2 separate regions of the Homo sapiens genome follow, and region 2 is linked to region 1. A link means that fine-mapping ties the variant in region 1 to the expression of a gene that starts in the linked region. Tissue or cell type: left ventricle. Region 1 holds a variant in brackets; the other region holds the start of a gene. All regions are shown on one strand. Distances are between the middles of the regions.

Region 1 (7,693 bases):
GGGTATGCAAAATGTTCAACTTCACAAGACAGTACTAAATTTTCTTTTCCAGAATGGTACCAATTTGTACTCCTATCAATAAAGTATGAGTTCCTATTGATCCACATTCATACAATAGTTGGAATTATCAGATCTCATGATGTATTTTCATCTTTGTACACCAAAGATAGTATTTTGCCTCATCATAGAAGGGACATAAAAATGTCAGCAAGTGCTAAAAAGTTTTGTCAGCATAGCTTACTTCAAGGTTACACAGAAGGTTATACAGAGGCTGAAACAAGAGTTTCAATGTAGGTAGTTTGTTTGGGGAAGTGATACTAGGGAATAGAAGTAGGAAATTCAGGAAAGGAAAAGAAGAGAGAAAACCAATACGGGAGTGTATTTTTGAGTTGGTCACAACTGTAAACAACTAGGGCGTAATCCTACTTAGTTAGACCCTCTGAGAATCTCTTGGAAACAAACACTATTAAAAGGCAATTGAGAATTATCAGGCCAAGGATGGAGGAGGGACTATTTATCTTAGGTTCCCATCTCACATTGGTCAAGGGTTGGCTCTTGGGCCTTTAACTCCCTCACATTCCATAACACACATGTGTGGGTACAAGAGTGTTCCAACAGGCCTTCCTGTTGAAACATCAAAGAAGTCCTGGAGTGAGAAGTGAGATATTTGCTGTGAGGCTAAGGCAAGGCACTCTCTGGTTTTACCCACATAAAGCTGGTTAATGGACTAACGGCTTAATTAAATGGTAGGCTATAAGGCTGTGCAGTGAGGCACAAAAGATGTCCAATAGACATAGCTAGTAAGTGGCAGAGATGAAACTCAAACACATGTATCTATCACAGATCAAATATTAGGTACTTGGTATATAGCATGAAAACACTGTCCACTGCCTACCAATAGCCAACTCTACCTTTCATCTCTGCTGACAGAATGCCAATTGGTTTCAATAGCAGACAAAGATCTCTGTGGTAGAGCTGGCACAGTAGCTCCATGGTGCCACCACAGGCCCAGATTTCTTCTACCTTTCTGTTCCAGCATCTTTAATGCTAGCTTACATCCAGTCAGTCACTCCATGGTCCAAGATGGCTCCAGGCATCATGCCTGCATTCAAGACTAACAGCAGGAGGAAGAAGGGGGAGGTACAAAAGGGCCCTCCTCCCAGCCAAGTCAAATCCCTTTAAGCAGGCTTCCTAGAAGTACCACACAACACAATTACCTCTCACTGGTGGAACTCAGTCATAGGTTCACACCTTGATACAAGGGATGCCAGGAAATAGAAACTATTTGCTAGATACATCATTACCAGTAATAAAACTGGTATTCTGCCACTAAGGGAGAAGGTGGGAATAGATATTGCATGGCAACTCAAAGTCCCTGCCACAATAGTCATTTGATTTAGAGCAGGTTTTTAATATACATATATCAGTCTTCTTATTTGTAAAATGGAAATTAACATGACTACCTCACAAAGTTGTTATGAGGAAAAATAAGATAATATAAATAAAATTGCACAGTGGCTGGTATGCAGAAAATACTTAATAAATGCTAGCTGGTATTAATTCACTTCGATGAGTCATCAGCATCAGGGCCTAGCTTTGAGCCAACCCCCAGATAACTGATCTTTATCAGTGTCCCTGTATTTATTAGGTTTGAGGGTGTTGGGTGCTGACTCACACCCACAACACTCATAAGTGTTTAAAGCTAGAGTGGCGGCTTAGTAATTTACAATGGGAGATATAACTGTCAGGGAGACCAGACACTCTGACCAGGTTATTCTCACCCTGAAGGCAATGAACATGTGGCATCCTAAGGCTGACTGCTGAGCATGAAGTCAGGAGAAACAGAATTAATTATACAGTTCAGATCTTTAACGGCATTGGGCTTGTTGTATCCATCTCCACAATTGGGCTTCTGTTATCTGGTGGTCAGAAGCTCAGGCTAGAAACATGACAGGTAACCTCTTCCCATTGACAGTGCTGGGAGGTGCATTACTGGAAAAATTCACCAAGAATGTGGAACATGTGGGAAAGCTATGAGGGTAAACTCAAAACAGTTATGGCATAGTAAATCTATTCTTAATAGAAGCCCTATACATCTGGCATAACTTTGGAAAAGTTGTAAGGGAAATACTTTAGCAAGACCCATTCTTTAGATAATAGGCCCAGAGTAAATGGGGCAGCTAGAAACCTGATTACATCTTTGTTTAAAATACTTATTGGATTACAAGTTGAATACCTTTTTAAGTTTAAAATAGAAATATTTTCACTGTTTCATATGGAGATATAAATAGAGCTTTAAGAACAATTTAAAATAACATAAAATGCTTTAAATTAAGCAAATAGAAAATCATAACCTGTGTGTATACAATATACATGTACGTATATGTATGTGTGTGTATATATATCACCTATATATAGCACATATATATATATCAAATTTTCTAATAACAGTAACAAAATGTGAATTTTACCGATTTAATTCTATGAAGTCAGGTAAAATATTTTCTTCATATCCAATAATTTTGGGGAGGGGATACTCTTTGATGTAGCTCACTGTTGGTCTCGTGTAGAAACAATTGTGTGATTAAATTAGAAATAATTTAAAATTAATGTTTTAGGGGGGAAATTTGCAATGCCCCATGAAATCTCTAGAATGGTTAATCCTTTAAAAATCGCATATGAGAAGTATGCAACCAATCTCATAAAATCAGCTTTGAGCTTCTAGAAGAGCAAGCTGCAAAATAGCTCTATGATTGGAGAACAAACATGAATAGAGACTAATGGGCTGATGTGTAGCCTCTGTATTTATTCACTTCTATTTGTATGAGATTAAAAGAAATCCCAATACAGCATTTTCTCCCACTTTCTCATCCTTCGTCCTATTAACAGAAAAAGTAATTATGCTTGGCAAAAAGAAAAATGTAATGCTGGCCGGGCACAGTAGCTCACACCTGTAATCCCAGCACTTTGGGAGGCCGAGGCAGGCAGATCACTCGAGGTCAGGAGTTCAAGACCAGCCTGGCCAACATACTGAAACCTCGTCTCTCCTAAAAATATTTTTTAAAAAATTAGCTGGGTATGGTGGCAGACACCTGTAATCCCAGCTACTCGGAAGGCTGAGGCAGGAGAATCACTTGAACCTGGGAGGCAGAGGTTGTAGTGAGCTGAGATGGCGCCGCTGCACTCTATCCCGGGCAACAGAGTGAGACTCTGTCCAAAAAAAAAAAAAAAAAGTAATGCTATCAGCAATTAGAATTACAAACTTCACATACAATGATGTATGTAATGACCCTGACTCATCCAATACCATAAAGTCTCAAAATGTCAGAGATACATGGTTTGCAATGTATCATCCCTACACCAGCAGCATCAACATCATCCAGGAACTTGTTAGAAAGGCAAATTCTTGGGCTCTACCCCGACACCTATGGAATCAGAAATTCTGGGGCTGGATCATAACAATCTGCTTTTAACAATTTCTCCAGGTGATTCCGATGTCCATTAAAGTTTGAGAACCACTCATCTAGACAGAACCATGCTACTTCAAGTATGATCTGTAAACTGGTAACATTGAAATCACTAGGGGCTTGTTAGAACTGCAGAATCTCAGACCCCACCTAGACTTATTGGATTAGAATCTAAATTTTAATAAGGCCTCCAGGTGACTGGTGCGCACATTAAAGTTTGAGAAATGTTGTACTTGTCCAATGGTTTCTTTCATGGGCTGAATTGTGTCTCCC[C/T]CAAATTCACATGTTGAAGTCCCAGCCTTCAGGGGCTCTAAATATAACTATTTGGAGATAAGGCCTTTGATGAGGTAATCAAGTTAAAATTAGCTCTTTAGACTAGGCCCTGACACAATATATGACCAGCATCCTTATAAGAAGAGATTAGGACACAGACATTCACAGAGAAAAGACTGTAGTAAAGATACAGGGGGAAGATGGTCAGGTGCAAGTGAAGGAGAGAGGCCTCAGGATCAACCAACCCTTGATCTTGGACTTCCTGCCTCCAGAACTGTGAGAAGAAACATTTCTGTTGCTTAAATCACCCAGTCTGTGGTCCTTTGAATGGCAGCCCTAGCAAACTAATATAGTTTCCAAACTCAGGCACATGTTGGAGTCATCTAGGGAGTTTTTAAAATATTGATACCTGGGTTCCATTCCCAGAGGTTCCAATTTAAGTGGTCTGAGGATCAGCTCATAAATCTTGATTTTAAAAACCTCTCCAGCCAGGCATGATGAATCAGGCTTGTAATCCCAGCACTTTGGGAGGCTGAGGCGGGTGGATTACCTGAGGTCAGGAATTGGAGACCAGCCTGGCTAACATGGTGAAACCCCGTCTCTACTAAAAATACAAAAATCAGCCGCGTGTGGTGGCAGGTGCCTGTAATCCCAGCTACTTGGGAGGCTGGGGCAGGAGAATCGCTTGAACCTGGGAGGCAGAGGTTGCAGTGAGCTGAGATCACGCCATTGCACTCCAGCCTGGGCAACAACAGTGAGACTCCATCTCAAAAAAAAAAATAAAAACAGAAAACAAACAAACAAAAAAACCTCCCCAGGTAATTTTTAATGTGCAACAAAGTTTGAATACCACTGCTAATCTACTCCAGGGGTGTCCAGTCTTTTGGATTACCTGGGCCACACTGGAAGAAGAATTGTCTTGGGCCACACATAAAATACACTAACACTAATGATAGCTGATGAGCTAAAAAAAAAAAATTGAAAAAAAATCTCATAATGTTTTAAGAAAGTTTACAAATTTGTGTTGAGCCACATTCAAAGCTGTCATGGGCTGCATGTGGCCTGCAAGCCACAGGTTGGACAAGCTTGATCTACTCCATTCTTTTCATTGATGAGAAATCTAAGACAATTGTAATCATTAAATTTCAATCTCTCGATACTTGCTTATCTGATCTCCCACCATGATGTCCAAAAACTACCTTCTGTAAGTATTTGAGAGAATATTCTACTGGAAAAGAGAAAGTTAAATCAAAGCGGGCAATAATATACACTCTTTTCATGCTTCAACTTTTTAAGTTTTAGTGTGTGTGTGTGTGCTAGGGACCATTTTGAACTGTGTGTGGGGGAGGGGGGCAGTAGTACATCTTCCCCAGTACAGGTATAGAGAAGGTCCCCAAAGATAATCTGTTGAACCAAGTTGTCAGTGCCACTACCTCTCCCTAGGTTCTTCTTTTCCCTCTTGTTAAGTTTCCCTCCAGGCTCCTAGGATCCAAATTAAAGACATTCAGATGCTGTAAACCAGCCTTCCAAGGCATTGGCAGCAAACCACTCATCAGTTTTTTTTCCTCACTAAATCCTTTCCCATGTCCCTGTGAAGTTTTGAAGCTCCCAAACTCAACACTCCACTCAAAGGACAACTATTTACTGAATATTTACTCTTTTCCAGGAACTTGAGGGTTTGATCCATACTTAATAGAAACCCTATGAGATTACACACACACACACACAGGCAAGGTGCAGTCTCTAAAAGTTAGCACACTCCATAAAAGTGATTTGGCACCCTTAAAATACCATATACCCATGTGGAGAGGGGAAATCTGCTCTAAATGTGTGCTTTTGCTACATTGATTAATATTTAGTATTTTACTTGGCCAGAACATTGATACGATCACAGGTTCAAAAAGACTTATTTTCTTGACAGTCTAGAAGACTTTCTGGTCAGTTCCCCAAATACATCACCTACCTGCCTCTCCCTGGCTGCCTTTCCACTATAGAAGCTGAAAAAACGGATACTTTCCCAGTCTCCTTTGCCACTAAGGGCAGCTATGTGCCCCAGATATTGCCAATGAGATAAAAGTAGGATTCTGTTAGATAAATTTGGGGAAGGATATTTTTTCTCTGATGAGAAAGTTGCATGAGGAAAAATACTCTGACCTTTTCCACCCCGTTTCCTGTCATTGAACATGGGATTAGGACCGAGTGTCTTGAGCTGTTAGAGCCATCTTGAAGCCATGAGGGTAAGACACTGACTCAGAACCCTGATATTGTTGGGTCACTGTATCAACTCCAGTTATTACCTACTGTCAGCCTTCTCTATTTTCTTTGTTTTTTTTTTTTTTCTTTAGAGACAGGGTCTTACCCTGTCACCCAAACTAGAATGTAGTGGTGCAATCATAGCTCACTGCAGCTTTAAAATCCTGGGCTCAAGGGATCCTCCCACCTCAGCCTCCTGTGTAGCTGGGACCACAGGCACATGCTACTGCGCCCAGCTAAACTTCTGTAGTATTACAAGCCATGTTTAGTTGGCTTTTCTGTTACTTTCAGCAAAAAAATAAAAAATAAAAAATAAAAAATTAAATATTAAAGTTCACAACAATATATAGATTTTTTCAAATATAGAAAACTCTCATTTATTTAGAACACAGTGTATTCTGAGGATCCACACTTTGAGTACCATTGAATTAAATGACTTATCTTTTAGGAGTGAAGAGAAAGAATGCACAGGTGGATTTCAAGGAATGGTAAACCTAATCTGGACTGCCAAATTATTTTATTCATTCATTTTTTTTCAACAGACCTTACTTTACTAGGCTCCAGGGATACAAAGATTAATAAGGCATTACCCTTGCTTCCAAATAAATTTTATTACTCTAAGCAAGATGGATATGTAAACCTAGAATCATAAGGTGGTAAGAGCTAAGATAGAGGTATGTAGAGTAGAGGAGTTATGTTATCAGAGAAGTGGGAAGCTTAACGGCTCCCCGGGGACGACATTGGAAGAGGATCATGGAAGCTTCCACTCAACTCTAAAAAATTATTCCTGTGATCTGACTAAACATGTAAGGTTTTATTAATTTTATTTCAAGGAGGGTTCTTTTCTATAATTATAGGTTATAAAACAAATGACAATTCAAGAAAGATCGGGGACTAATCAACTGCCAGAAAAGATACCCCATCCATTTTTCTCTCCCACAAAGCAAGACAAAAACATGGTTTTGTGTGTGCATTTTGGGGTGGGGGTGGCAGGCATATCAGCAGGGTTGTTTTCTGGAATAGAATACTTCTGTGTTGTGAATTAAGACCACTTGTTAACATTGCATCAAACCAAACAATTTGATGGTAAAGCAATCAGTTATCAATATGAACCACAAATTCATGCATTCTGGGAGATGCTCTCCTCTGCTCCTTTTAAGCAAAAATAACAATAATTAGTATTTACTTAATAGTCACAGAAACATTTTGCATTTAATGATAGAGAAAGGGGAAACATCTCCCCGCCACCACCACCAAAATGATTTTTCTAAAAGAGGTTAACAGAAGGAGGTCCCTAACCTTAGAGGAGAAACTAACACGTAGTTTTGCACTGTTAAATCCTTATAAGAAACAGAATAGGTCCTCACTGGTTGTCTTGCAAGGGAATAATAGGCTTTGGAGCATATCTGAAAATAGAGAAAATAAAACCAGCAATAGTCTTCTAAAATTTTCCTGGAATACGATACTTTGAAAATAAAACATTCAATAGTGTCCTTCAATGAATTGTTTCAACATTCTGGCATTCACATTAATTGTGCCTCCGGAACATTTCGATTCAGTCAGTGATAACGAGATAGATATGCAACAACTGCAGTTACCTTAAGCGCTGGCATGTCCTGGGCTGGAGAGGGTTGTTCCAAGATCCCAACTCAGGCTACAGTAAAACATCTGCTACCTCGCAGAGAATGAAGAAGCCACTC
Region 2 (7,693 bases), 96 kb before region 1:
GACATATTTCACAACACAAAAGGGCAATCTAACATTTGTTCTTCTTTAACAAAAAGAAAATGTGTCTGAAAGACTGTTATCCCCATTTTTGTGCCCCGAATGGTCGCTCAGAACGTTCATACCTCCATCATTTGCTCAGTTCTGCCCCAAATGGCAAGATCATTCTTTTTTTTATCTGAATCATGAGGGATTCATCTAGGTACATGTGTCCAGTCTGTAGCTCTGTGCTTGCATCCTTGCTGTACCTAATCCCCATCTGGTGGCTCAGTTCTAATACCTGGCTTTCACCTCGTAACCACACTTAGCCTCATAGGCCCCTACCACCTCTTCCACATTTGCAGAGCACTTACTATGAGCTAGGCACTATTTTAAGTATTTTACATTTACTAAACGTTCTAATCCTACAACACTCTTATCAGTAGAAACTATTGTTATCCCCAATTGACAGTGAGGAAACTCAGCAACAGGAAAGCTAACTAAGTTTTCTCAATTTCATGCAGCTGGTAAGTAGCAGAGCTGAGATTCAAACTCAGGTCATCTGACTGCAGAGTCAACACTCTCAACCCCTGCACAATATGATTTCAATAGTTAAGACCTGGGGTTTTGGTCTCTGCTACTGAGTTATTCTTCCAGCAACAAATCTTACTTTAATATCTATATAGTTCTTCATAGTTCAAAATGATTTCCTCTCCATGACTATATTTGTTCCTGTGGCCACTATATGAGATAGAATGAGTCTGAGGAAACTGTGGTTCACAGAGAGTGCACAGGGGGCAGTGAATGGTAGAATCAAAACTTAAACCTGGCTCTTTGGCTATGTTCTTTTCACTACCCCAATGATTCTGGGGCTTAGAAAAAGAAGATATCCATGAGGTGTGGACTTTCTGATGGAGATGGGGCCTGACCAAAACCTTGAATTGTAGGTAGCTCTTAGACTGAGGGAAAAAAGGATGAGAAAATAGAGAATAAAAGAAAAAAATAACAGAAAAGGGAGATGAGAGAGGATGGCTTCTAGATACATTATAATTAAAGAAATGAATGGACTTGGTAGTGGTTTGGATATTGAGAGCAAAGGAAAAGTTAGAAGCAAAATTGACTCCAAGATTTCAAATGTGAGAAACCAAGAGATCATTAATGCCATTCACAGAAACAAATGAAATGAAAGGGGAAGTGGTTTGACATAAAAGCTGTGAGTTTGGCTACAATCATGATGAATGTCGAGTGACCCTTGGACATACAAGTGGGAAAATGTATAGCAGATGGAAAAGATAAGATGTGGAAATGGAAGTCTTGGAGGTATCCACTTAGAGGTGATATTTAAAACTAAGGGTTGATAAGAAGTTATAGAGAAAGGCAAAACGTAATAGGTTATAGGCTAAATAAATGCTAAACCTTTGAGGGAAACCCAAACTTAAGGAAGAGAAAAGGAAAAATAGACAAGAAGGGAAGTGGTAGAAAAGCAGTTGAATAAATAGTATAGAGTCATGGACAAGAAGGAAAGAGAAAATTTAAGAAGTAGGAATTGATCATGTGTGTCACATAGAGCCAAGGGGATGAATAAAATGAGAATTTGGAAAAGTATTCCTTATAGCCCTTATCACACTTGTAATGAATTATTTGGGTGAGTTAACACCCTTCCTAACTAGACTGGAGATATATAAAGGCAGACTTAAGTGTTCCCTACTGTAACTTCAGTGCTCAGCAATGCCTGATGCATAGCTGTCACTAAATAAATATTTATTGAATGGATGAATGAATACATAAATAAATGAATGTACTTGAATTTCCTAGCAGCACTACAGGTGACCCTTGGAAGTACAGTGTCAATAAAGTGATGAAGATTGATTTTATGTCATAGGGGAATTTGAAAGAAAGATTTTAAAAGAGAAAGTGAGGCAGTAGGGTATGTTTTATTAATCACTTCTTAGAGAAATGTTTTTGTTAAAAGGAGAGAGAGACCAGATCAAGTGAATTTTTTATCCCAGTACACTACATGTTTATTATATTTTGTTCCTCTAGGAGCTCCTCCCTATTTTAGATAATCTTTCAGAACCTAAGGTAACCACAGCGGTTGCTAACTCTGCAAGTAACAGAAGCACCATCTGCTTTTTTGCTGTCTTCAGTAAAATCAAAAGTCCATGGGCTAAGCAAGATGGAAGATGTAGAGAAACAGAGGTCAAAGGAAATGATGATACTCCCCACAGAAAGAGATAACCAGGAATGGAACGAGGTTGGAGAGAAGTTTTGTGAAATCATGGAAAATGTGTGAATGTATATAGAGGGGTGAGAGAGAAAGAGGATGAGAGACCACAGACAAGTAAGATATGAATGTACAAAAGCATATTTACAAGTAGATTTTAAGTAGAATGTATTAAAGATGATTAGCTAAGTGCTTACGCAGGATGGCAAAATAGTCATAAGATACATCATCATATAATAGAGCTTAAGTAAAACGAACTGCTCATTTTACATATTAAAGCTACATTTCCTTTTCCTTCCCTTAACATACTAAATAATAATAAGGAAGTAATTTCAACAAAAATACTAAATGGGCCTCCAAAAGAAAAGAGGTAGAAGCTCAATAATTTTATTCACTAAACCTATCAGAAGACTTTAACAAATCTGAATAAATAGAAGGATAACATAGCTAATACCCAAACTTAAAATAGCAAAGAATTTCAGGAAATCATAAATACATAGAAAAAGCATGATTCAACAACTAAAAGAGCAGTAAGACATTTTCTCAGTTATTAGTTGCCCACATGTAAATATGCATGTATATGTGGGTATGTACATATATATACTGAGGGATGCAAGGACCAATTTAAGGATTTCACTAGAGTCCAAACAAATGGCTTCATGCATTTAAGACCTAGGGTATGAATTGTAACACTTTTGTGTGTAAGCTGTTGTCCAAATAACATATAAACAACTTATTACAAAATGAAAAAATTATATACTTAATTCCTGTGTTTAAAATACTTTTTAAGGAGGCTACTACTGAAGTAGTACTTCTAAATGCATTATTACATGTAAACAATATTTTATACTATTTTGAATGCTATAAATATATAACTCCTGTTTTCTCCAGGCATATGCTTTTCTCCAGGCATACACATATACTTGGAGCAAAGAGAAGTTATATATTAATAGTTGTAAAATTACGTTTTTCATTTAAATGAGGAAGACAGTATTGGTAATTAAAACAATCTACATTAAGGAGAAATTTTTTAAACCCTGATGCATCTTTTCAGAGTATATTAATGTTCACAGTTAATATCGCATTTCTGTAAGCTGTTACAGTATCATATTCATGTTGAAATTATTCCAGGTTTTTCAGACTTTATTAATCCTTCTACTGAATTTATATCCATACTGGATATTTGTCCATATCAAAAATGGAACTGAATGTAAAAACAATTAAATAATTCCAAATGAAACATCTAAATTTTCTAATAAATGAAAGAAATTCAGAGCAAAAGGACAATCTATGTTATATAGAGATGTGAGAGGTTTATATAGAGAGGTGTGAGAGATTTATAGCAAAATGATGCAACACTTCTGCTGTGAATTTGATTTTTTTATGTCACTAGAATGCATATTTGTTCCTGGAGGCACTCACTCTTCAGTAGAACCTAGTGCAATGCTTCACTTCATAGATAGAATCAAGTGTTAATAACAAAAAGATACTTATATTTCTCTCCTCAATCCATTAAACTCATAGCTACCAATGGCCAAAATGTCCCTTCTGTACATATTTCTCCCTTTTTTACTGTAAAATACAATATCAAATGGTGGAAGGAGCTGTTTTCTTCCTGACCAGCAAATCCCACTACTCCCCTACCACACACAAAATACAGAAATTAAGAAATCAGATATCACACTGGAGATCCCTAAACGCATTAGTCTTACCTTAATCTGAAGGTTAGAATGTTTTTATGGGCTTATTTTTCTCTCAAACACACAAACTGTAGAATGCTGGACTACTTGACCCTTGTGAACTACTTGGAGCAGGAACTTGAAAAACCAGCCTCTCATATTCCCACAATCTATTTACACATTGAACACACCCAGTAGCACAGAGTAATGTTTATCTGTTGCAGACAGCTATTTCAAGAAGAAGGCAGTATCTCTAAAGCTGAGCTTTCAAAAAGGAATGTCTCTGTTGATCAGCAGGGGAAAGGTAACAGGTTTCATCTAAAGCACATTTTAAACATTTTTTGACATGAGGTATTTTTTACACCAGTGTTTTAAAGGTGATTCACTCTTTTAATATTCTTCTACCCCTGAAAATCTCTATTCTTAAAAAACCTGGGAGAAACGTGATAACAATGAACACATATGTGCCAGGCACTGTTGTAAGTGCTTTACATATATCCTCTCCAATAATTCTCCAAATGTGTTAGGTGTATAATATTATTATCCCCATATTACAAATGAACAAACTAAGTAGTCTGCCCACAGTCACCCAGTTAGTAAGTACTGGAGTCAAAAGTTAAATCCAGGCACTCCATAACCATAGTCCAGGTATCTAATCATAGCACTGTGCTATGTATGTATGACTTTTAGAAGACAAATGTGTAACAGTATGTGATTGCTCAGCTGAACATTAGAGAATGAGTGAGGTTTTCTCAGTGCTTGTATGGTACTGAATCTTTAGTTGAAGTAAGTGAAATTTTTGTTAAGATCACTTCTGCCAAGGTGATTACCCATTTATGTTACCATAGCCAGGTCCCTTTTAGCTACAGTGGGGAACCCCAAAGGTGGTGTCCTGGAGAATCGAAAACGTGAGTCTAGCTTGAAGTACCAAGAGAGTTATTACTTTCTTATGTTAAAAAACTCATACAAAAGAAGTCAATACAACACCTTTAAAAAGTTTAGAGATACATGTTTTGTTCCATTTTTTTCAGATTGGATGATTACTTTTGATCTGTCTTCAAGCTCATTTGATGCTAGCCATCTCCAAACTAATGTGAGCCCATCTAGTGTGTTATTAATTTCAGTTACTATAATTTTTTAAGCTCTAAAATTTCCATGTGGTTATTTTTATAGTTTCCATTTCTCTGCTGAAATTCACTATCTGTACATTTATAAAGATCATATTTTCCTTTCATTCTTTGAACCTATTTTCTGTTTGTTCTTTGAATACATAATAATTGATTTAGTCTTTTTCTATGAAGTTTAACAACTGGACATTTTTGGGTCTGTTTCTACTGATTTTATGACAATAGGTGATATTTTCTTGTTTCTTTGCATGTTGAATTTTTTTATTGCATATTGGACAATGGGGATCATATAGTGTAAAGACTCTGCTATCTCCCTCTGAGGAGTATTAATATTTGTTCTATTAATATTGGCATTTCCATAGAATTGGTTTGGTTTTGCTAATGTAGTTATGCAGAAAGTCTAAGGTCCTTTCCAAGCCTGATGAATTTGGGAGATCAACCTACAAATTCTGTCTCCCCTGCAGATCTTGTAAGGGCTGAGTTTTAGGATTTTTTATTTGTAATTTTTATGGAAAAATAGTAGGTGTATATATTTATGAGTTACAGAGATATTTTGATACAGGCTTGCAATATATAAAGATCACATCAGGGTAAATGGGGTATCCATAGCCTCAAGCAATTATCCTTTGTGTTACAAACAATACAATCATACTGTCTTCATTATTTTAAAATGCACAATTAAATTATTATTTTTACTATAGTCACCCTGTTGTACTAAGAAATACTATGTCTTATTCATTCTTTCTATTTTTGTACCCATTAATCCTCCCTACTTCCCCCCAGCACCTCACTACCCTTCCCAGCCTCTGGTAACCATATTTCTACTCTCTATCTCCATGAGTTCAATTATTTTCATTTTCAGCTCCCACAAGTAAGTGAGAATATGCAAAATTTTTTTTCTGTGTCTGGCTTATTTGACTTAACATAATGACCTTCAGTTCCATCCATGTTGTTGCAAACGACAGAATCTCATTCTTCTTTATAGATGGTAGCACTCTATTGTGTATATGTACCACAGTTTCTTTATCCATTCATCTGTTGATGGACATTTATATTGCTTCCAAATTTTGTCTATTGTAAATAGTGCTGCAGTAAACATGGGAGTGCAGATATCTCTTGAATATACTGATTTCCTTTCTTTTGGGTATATACTCAGGAGTGGGATTGCTGGATCATATGGTAGCTCTATTTTGAATTTTTTGAGGAACCTACAAACGGTTCTCCATGCGATTGTACTATTTAAATCTAAGACCTCAAACTATGAAACAACAAAAACAAAACATTGGGAAACCTCTCTAGCACATTTGACTGGGCAAGGATTTATTGAGTAATACCCCACAAGCACAGGCAACCAAAACAAACAGTGACAAATGGGATCACATCAAGTTAAGAAGCTCCTGCATGGCAAGGAAACAATCAACAAAGTGAAGAGCCAACCTACAGAGCAGGAGAAAATATTTGCAAACTACCAATCTGACAAGGGATTAATAACCAGAATATATAAGGAGCTCGAATAACTCTATAGGGAAAAATATAATGATCTGATTTAAAAACTGGCAGGGGATCTCAATAGACATTTCTCAAAAGAAGACATACAAATGGCAAAAAGGCATATGAAAAGGTGCTAAATATCAGTGATCATCAGAGAAATGCAAATCAAAACTACAATGAGATGTCATCTTACTCCAGTTAAAATGGCTTATACCCAAAAGAGAAGCAATAACAAATGCTGGTGAGGATTTGGAGAAAAGGGAACACTTGTACACTGTTGGTGTGAATACAAATTAGTACAACCACTCTAGAGAACAGTTTGAAGGTTCCTTTAAAAACTCAAAATATGAACTTAAAGTAGTTTTTTCCAATTCTGTGAAGAAAGTCATTGGTAGCTTGATGGGGATGGCATTGAATCTATAAATTACCTTGGGCAATATGGACATTTTCACGATATATATTCTTCCTACCCATGAGCATGGAATGTTCTTCCATTTGTTTGTATCCTCTTTTATTTCATTGAGCAGTGGTTTGTAGTTCTCCTTGAAGAGGTCCTTCACGTCCCTTGTAAGTTGGATTCCTAGGTATTTTATTCTCTTTGAAGCAATTGTGAATGGGAGTTCACTCAGGATTTGGCTCTCTGTTTGTCTGTTATTGGTGTATAAAAATGCTTGTGATTTTTGTACATTGATTTTGTATCCTGAGACTTTGCTGAAGTTGCCTATCAGCTTAAGGAGATTGCCAAGTCAATCCTAAGCCAAAAGAACAACACTGGAGGTATCACGCTACCTGACTTCAAACTATACTACAAGGCTACAGTAACCAAAACAGCATGGTACTGGTACCAAAACAGACATATAGACCAATGGAACAGAACAGAGCCCTCAGAAATAATACCGCATATCTACAACTATCTGATCTTTGACAAACCTGAGAAAAACAAGCAATGGGGAAAGGATTCCCTATTTGATAAATGGTGCTGGGAAAACTGGCTAGCCATATGTAGAAAGCTGAAACTGGATCCCTTCCTTGCACCTTATACAAAAATTAATTCAAGATGGATTAAAGACTTAAATGTTAGACCTAAAACCATAAAAACCCTAGAAGAAAAACTAGGCAATACCATTCAGGACATAGGCATGGGCAAGGACTTCATGTCTAAAACACCAAAAGCAATGGCAACAAAAGACAAAATT

Alleles and levels. Positions count from the first base shown, and alleles are read on the strand shown. Sizes are in standard deviations (SD) of each study's normalised expression.
In carriers of allele C in region 1, the expression in left ventricle of the gene that starts at base 4,028 in region 2 tends to be lower than with T alone (large effect, 1.0 SD a copy in GTEx).

Evidence for each region. PIP is the estimated chance that this variant, and not a neighbour inherited with it, causes the effect.
Region 2: SYTL5 starts here. The variant in region 1 is fine-mapped to the expression of SYTL5 in left ventricle (GTEx, PIP above 0.99). The same link has a PIP of 0.9 or more in atrial appendage.

Annotation. Positions count from the first base shown.
Region 1 is chrX:37,906,508-37,914,200 of GRCh38, reverse strand. It overlaps a transcript of SYTL5 not described here. Among named protein-coding and RNA genes, the nearest start is that of DYNLT3, 63 kb to the right of the region's middle. The variant C/T (reference allele first, on the strand shown) is at 3,741.
Region 2 is chrX:38,002,888-38,010,580 of GRCh38, reverse strand. SYTL5 (synaptotagmin like 5) reads right to left here and starts at 4,028. Exons shown (of 17, transcript NM_138780.3): 1 at 3,913-4,028.